Linked DNA regions of Homo sapiens. The protein of the gene in region 2 purifies or fractionates together with the protein of the main gene of each other region. This does not show direct contact. Each region holds a gene or a part of one and is shown on either strand. Other genes may lie near its edges.

Region 1 (3,524 bases), on a different chromosome or scaffold from region 2:
AGATAGCTTCTGATCTTCTCTACTTTATTTTATTCTATTCTAGTGTGGTTCTCTTAAATGCTCATCAGAACCACTAAATTAATCTCACAACCTATAATGGATCATGACTTGTGGCTTGAAAACCAGTTTAGACTATGATTCTTCTTGAAAGCTGGGCATCATAGGAACTACTTATTACACCTTTGGCATATTCTCCAGATCACTCTGCTCCTCTCCAGGGAACCCAAGCTAAGGAGTTTCATCACTGGTCTGTTCTAGGACTATGGATATGTTTTCTTAATGTGAAGCTTTTTTTCTGGTTGTCACAGAAATATATAATAATTGTAAACTGTTTTAAAACAGGAAAATATTTTTAAATAACAATAATTATCATTGTACCATCCAGAAAAAAGTTATAGTTTACATAGTGATAGTTGACATTTATTGGGCACTGACTATATGCTAAAAGTTACACTATGTCCTTGCAAATATATTATCTCATTTATTCCTCAGAACAATCCTAGGAGTTACAATCGTTATTATTTTTAACTCTTCACATTTTACAGATAAAGAAACCAAGTCTCAGAGAGCTTAAGCACTTTATAAAAGGTCACATGGCTCTTCCATGATGGAGTCAGGATTTGAGCTGAGCTGGTGCCATGTGACTACAAAGTCCCTGCTCATAACCATCATGCTACACATTTGGAAATTTAGGTCATATCCAAATGTTTACTATTATAAACAACACTGCACTGAACAACTTAATGAAAAAAAATCATTTTGCATTTTGGATTGTTTTCATAGGAAAGAGTCTTGGCACTAGTATTATGGGGTCAAAAGGACATGCATAAGTTTCATACTTCTTATACATTTTGCTAAATTATTTTTTCAGCAGTTGCATCACACAAGAGTGCCAGTTTTACCTCACGCTGCCTAGCATTATCTACCAGAAGGTTCATGCTCTGTAATCTTATGGCAGTCAGATCCCGGTACATTTACTTGTGTTACAGAGCAAGAGGTATAGGAGGTAGGACGCTGGCCCTTGGTAGATGCAAGTGAACTGACATGGTGATTTGGAACCTGGAAATGGCAGTGGTGACTATTAGCATTCCTTGGCTCTCCCTGTAGCACACTGGGAAAGCCGATGAGAACAACAATTGGCTCCTTGTGTTCAGGTAACAAATTAGATTATTCTATTCTAGCCCTTGTCAGTAAGGGGCAACCTGGACTTTCCTGCATTCTTTTACCTGTGGTTTTACAATATGGTGGAAAGGAATGACATAGCCAACACATTAAAAAGAAAATCGGATTCTGCATGCAATGAAGCTCATGAGCACGGCATGGGCTGTAAGAACAGTGGGAAAGGGAGAGAAATCTTCCGTCTGTATACCTTCTACTATTTTGTACTGGGGCTGATCTTTTTTTTTTAATAGAGACAGGGTCTCACTATGTTACCCAGGCTGGACTCGAACTGCTGGGCTCAAGCGATCTTCTTGCTTGAGCCTGCCAAGTAGCGGGGACTACAGGTGCACACCACCGCACCCAGATTGGGACTGATCTTATGTCCAATCTGAGCAGAAAATCACCAACTGGACTTCAACTCAATCCTCTGTACTTCTTAAAGATTATTTTCTCCCTATAAAATCAGTCTTAGGTTTCCCACAAACCTTAACATTTGTCTTGAGAAATGTTTGTCTTGAAATTGTCTCGAGAAATCCCAACCTGAAGATGAAAGACTTGGGCATAATCTAGCACTTCCCTGGTCCCATGATACTGATTCCCCTTTATGATACCCTTTCCTTTAATTGCTCTGTGGGATACAATGACAGAAACATACAGTATGGAACTTTCCAGAGTGACATCCCTCCTTACATTATCTCATCAGACCCTCACAACAACACTGTGAGGAAGCACAGGGCAAAAAGTGAGCTCACATAATAGATGTAATCTGTGCTGAGGCCACATAGTAAGTGGCAAAATCAGGATTAGGTCAACTGACTCCAAATCCAAAGTGTATTCCATTCCACTCTGTCTCAAATACTTAAAACCCAAATGCACATGCATGCACACACATGTGAAAGTGCATGAGAGTGCATGCACACACATACACACACACACACACACACACATGCATTTGCCATTTAAAATTACTGGGCTCTTATACCCACGCTACCTTCGCTATAGTAACTGGGGCCCTGTAACCAGGGAACCAGCCATAGGAGATATTGAGGGGATAAAGAACAGAGATATATTGTGCCCTAGATGCCCTGTTTTTTGGCAGCAGTTCATTCTTTCGCCGTTTGTGACCTCCCATAACAGCTGGAGTGGTCAACCAGAGATGCAACCAACTGCAGCTCCAAGATGTGTCCCCTGCCTGATAGCTGACCTCAGAATGATCAGAATGAGGCCAGACACCATTGTAAGTGGAAGCCTTCCAGTTCCATAGGAAGTACAGAACTGAGCCACATAGAGAAACACACTGGAATTGCTGGCATTAAAGACTACACAGAATGCTGGCCTCTGACTGCCCTTTCTTGGCTGTCCTGTGGAGACCAGAGACAGTCCTAATAGAAGAGGAAAAGCTGGGGTGAGGGATGTCTGCTATTCTAATGAGGCTGAAACAAGGACTTCATCTTTGGTTGTTATATAGAACCCTTATATATGTTTGTCCCTTCAGTTAACAGTAAGGTATCTCTTCTAATAAGTGATTAATTCTAATATTCTCTTCCAGTGACAGGTGATTGGAAGCTTGTCCATAGAGACGAAAGTAAACCCACATGATCTGAAGGGAAGGGGACAGGTGAGATGATACAGACTGGGGCCGAATCCTGATCAGGCCAGGAATTAGGAGAGAAGTACAATTTATTGGTTTATCTTGAAAGGGGAGTCATGGAGATTTTACTGAAGATTTTATAGAGAGATAAGGAAGAGAATTTTCACTAAACATCAGAGGCAGCACTTGCTGAATTTCTCTCAGTGTCTCTGTTCTTCCCTCTTGTAAATCTGCTGCCTCATTCCTCATCCATCTCCCTCCCCACAGCCCCACAACCTCATCTATGGGTTGTTTTTCAACACTGATTAGTCCATGAGACCTCAAGGACACAGATTCTCAGATCCTCCTCCTGTGTTGTTCAAGTCCCTCTATCTCTTGGCCTTCAGTGGAGCTCCACTTCCCATCCTAATCCACTGCCCATACCAAGGTCATATTTAGATTTACACACTGTCAGCCTCTTTCAGGGTAGAAACCTTGTCTTGTATTTCTTTACATCTCCTACAGTGCCTATCAAAAATGCTGTCTGAAATTCGCAAAATTCCTGGAGATTTTTGCGCTGAGTACCAGATAAAATCAATACGTGAAATTGCTTTGAAAACAATAAAATAAAGTAGAGCTATAGTCAGTCATGAAGTAAGAAGCCCAGAGCAATACTCACATAGATCATAAATGTTGCAACTCGGTTTCCTGACTTCATTCTGTAGAGGGGGCTGCTTGGTGACTGAGAAAAAAAAAAACAGAACATATTATTTTATGCAGATGGCACCAGAGG
Region 2 (3,524 bases):
CTGGGATTATAGGCGCCCGCCACCATGCCTGGCTAATTTTTTTAAGTAGAGATGGGGTTTCACCATCTTGGCCAGGCTGGTCTTGAACTCCTGACCTCATCATCCACCTGCCTCGTCCTCCTAAAGTGCTGGGATTACAGGCATGAGCCACCGCACCCGGCCCAGAGAAACAATTTTTTCATGCAAAGACAATAGACAATTCCCACGGATGTAGCAAAGCTTTGTCAGGAGTCACCAAGAAACTTAGGGTACACATAAAAGTATTTCCAAATACTGATGCTTCGTCCTTTAAGTACTCAAAGCATTATTGTTTTGTTTTGTTTTGTTTTGAGATGGAGTCTCACTCTATCATTCAGGCTGGAGTGCAGTGGCACGATCTGGGCTCACTGCAACCTCTGCCTCCCAGGTTCGGATAATTCTCCTGCCTCAGCCTCCTGAGTACCTGGGACTACAGGTGTGTGCTACTGTGCCTGGCAAATTTTTTGTATTTTTAGTAGAGACAGGGTTTCAACGTGTTAGCCAGGATGGTCTTGATCTCCTGACCTCATGATTCGCCCACTTTGGCCTCCCAAAGTCCTGGGATTACAGGCATGAACCACCGTGCCTGGCCAGCATTATTGTTTTAATCTCTGCCAGTACGATTCTTTATAAAATTCACAGCTATACTTCACTTCAAGGAGTTAAGGAACATAACCCAAATTATTTTGTTGTTGCTTTTGAGTTCATGAAAGCCCAATATTAGTATAATTTTTTGTAATAAAGGTGGGTTGTGAGATGACTGACATATGTATCCCTACATTAAATACCATCAGAGGCTGTAGTGGGTATGCTTTGTGTTATTTTTGAGATGGGGTCTCACTCTGTCACCTACGCTGGAGTGCAGTGACATGATCATAGCTCACTGCAGCCTTGAACTCCTGAGCTCACGGGATCCTCCTGCCTCAACCTCTCAAGTAACCGGGATTACAGGTGAATGCTACCATCACTGGCTAATTAAAAAAAATTTTTTTAGAAGTGGGGTCTTGCTGTGTTGCCCAGGCTGGTCTTGAACTCCTGGGCTCAAGAGATCATCCTGCCTTGCCTCCCAAAGTGCTGGGATTACAGGTGTGAGCTACCATGCCCTGGCCTGTGTATGCTTTTTATAGCCTTGAGTCTCTTCCTTCACTGCTAGGAAGCTCTCAGGGGAGCTACGTCTGGCAGTTCCTTCATGCTGCCTTACAAAAGCATATACTGGACAGGCGCAGTGGCTCATGCCTGTAATTTCAGCACTTTGGGAGGCTGAGGCGGGGGGATCACCGGAGGTCAGAAGTTCAAGACCAGCCTGACTAACATGGTGAAACCCTGTCTCCACTAAAATACAAAAATTAGCCAGGTGTGGCGGCGGAGACCTGTAATCTCAGCTACTCTGGAGTCTGAGGCAGGATAATTGCTTGAACCCAGGAGGCGGAGGTGGCCATGAGCTGAGATCATGCCATGGTACTCCAGCCTGGGCAACAAGAACAAAACTCTGTCTCAAAAAAACAAACGAACAACAACAACAACAAAACCAAAACACACACACACAAAAAGCATGTACTGATCTACTGCATGATGGGAAAACTAATAGCTGAGATTGAAATACATCTAAAATTAAAGTTCATTTTAATGCGTGGGCTTTATGGCATTTATTTTAGTGCTTAAGACAATTCTTTTCCTTCCTTTGTTTCTCTTCAGTCATAATCTAGGTATTTCAGATTCAGAGAATGGGGCATTTCTACGTGTGGTTCATGCTTATATCACTACAAAAACAATAGCATCAAGGGAAACACATTAATCTTTTTTTTCTTTTTTTGAGAGGGTGTCTCGCTCTGTCGCCCAGGCTGGAGTGCAGTGGCACAATCTCGGCTCACTGCAACCTCTGCCTCCTGGGTTCAAGCGATTCTCCTGCCTCAGCCTCCCAAGTAGCTGGGACTACAGGCGTGTGCCACCACGCCCAGCTAATTTTTGTATTTTGAGTAGAGACGGGGTTTCACCATGTTAGCCAGGATGGTCTTGATCTCCTGACCTCGTGATCCGCCCTCCTCGGCTTCCCAAAGTGCTGGGATTACAGGCGTGAGCCACCGCGCCCGGCTAAGGGAAACACATTACTCTTAAAACAGATGTGAAGTGTAAATTTTCTTAGTATGGTGATATAAAGTCATTGTAACACATTTTTCCACACCTGTTTAGGAAAGACCTCCATCAAATCAGTTACTTTGTGAGTCTAAGTGCTAATTCCAGTGATAATTCCATTGCTAAAATATTTGAACTTGCATTTTAGAACTGCCTTCATGGTTCATTTACAAGAGACACCTTTTAATCACAGCACATTTCGACCTAGCTAAGTCACCTACTTTATTCACCAGTCTTGAATGTGCATGACTTTTAGATGTCTTTAAAAAGAAAAATCATAAAGATTTGCCATTTGAGCATAAAGATTTGCCACCAAGAAAGAGATTTACTAATGAAGGCAGAAGGCAGTCCAAGTAATATAGATTCTAAAGGCAGCTTGAGCAACAGAAGCTATCACTGGAAATAATTCTCCTGAGATGACCATTTTGAAAACAAAACAAAACAAAACAAAACTCAACAATTCTAGAATATTTTTGGGGGTAACATAGGTTAAAAAAAATAAACTATTGGTCACGTTCTGAAAGATATGCATTAATGCACATATCCTAAATGGAGGGGAAGATTCTCGTAGATACAAAGCAACTGGTTTACGTTTAAGCCATTTTGGAAATGCCCCACCAGGCTTTTTGCCCCCAGTGGTGACTTCCCACTAGCATCTCTGTGGAGTGCTTTTCCCTACATGTGTGCCTATACCAGGCCACAGCTGTTTCAGGAATTAGGGAGGAGGTCTTGCTGGTCTCTGTGGGCTTTTGATGAAGAATTCCCTATGGCAGCTGTCTGAACAAAACAGCCACTCAAGACTATTTTCTATGCATTATTCTTACCCTAGATGGAAGATTTCCAACCAGAAGTCCCCCACCCCCGCAAAATACCTTCTTTACATCATCTCATTTTCAGACTTTTAACCATTTTTGAATAAGATGTGATCGCCCTGCTGAAGTTATTTTCAAGAGCATACTTAGCCTGAACCCTCAAAGACCAAAGCAACTGATCCGCATCATCGCAAGTGTTGGCTCCGTGTTACCTGGGATGGGAGGGGACATGGCGGCCACCCAGTACCCCAACTGGGGGGCAATGTATGTCCACGTCAGCTGGCTGCCTTCCTGGTGCACAAGACCCAGACCGCTCTTCAGCCACGTTCCTGTGGAATTGAGAAAGAGATGTTAGCTACAAGCACACCACGCTCCTTTGTAAGGCTTGAGCATATTGTAAAAGTCATCTTAAATATCTTAAATGTCATGTTTATGACCTATAAGATAACCAAGATGGCCAAAGTGTCATCTAGGGACCCCAGGCAGCTTTCTGGAGAAATTCTTTTCAATTTCCTTTCAGGGAAAGATAAGCAACTTTAGTGTTCCTTTGCCTTCTCAATT

The links. Proteins that work in one complex are often made in the same cells at the same time.
Region 1: the proteins of FAM171A1 (region 2) and P4HA3 purify together in Homo sapiens (co-immunoprecipitation; one large-scale study listed by IntAct). This does not show direct contact.

What each region holds. Positions count from the first base shown.
Region 1 is NC_000011.10:74,270,135-74,273,658, forward strand, and holds part of P4HA3 (prolyl 4-hydroxylase subunit alpha-3 isoform 1 precursor), read right to left. Parts: intron 3,474-3,524; coding exon 3,411-3,473; intron 1-3,410. UniProt on the Homo sapiens protein: Catalyzes the post-translational formation of 4-hydroxyproline in -Xaa-Pro-Gly- sequences in collagens and other proteins.
Region 2 is NC_000010.11:15,217,769-15,221,292, forward strand, and holds part of FAM171A1 (protein FAM171A1 precursor), read right to left. Parts: intron 3,293-3,524; coding exon 3,176-3,292; intron 1-3,175. UniProt on the Homo sapiens protein: Involved in the regulation of the cytoskeletal dynamics, plays a role in actin stress fiber formation.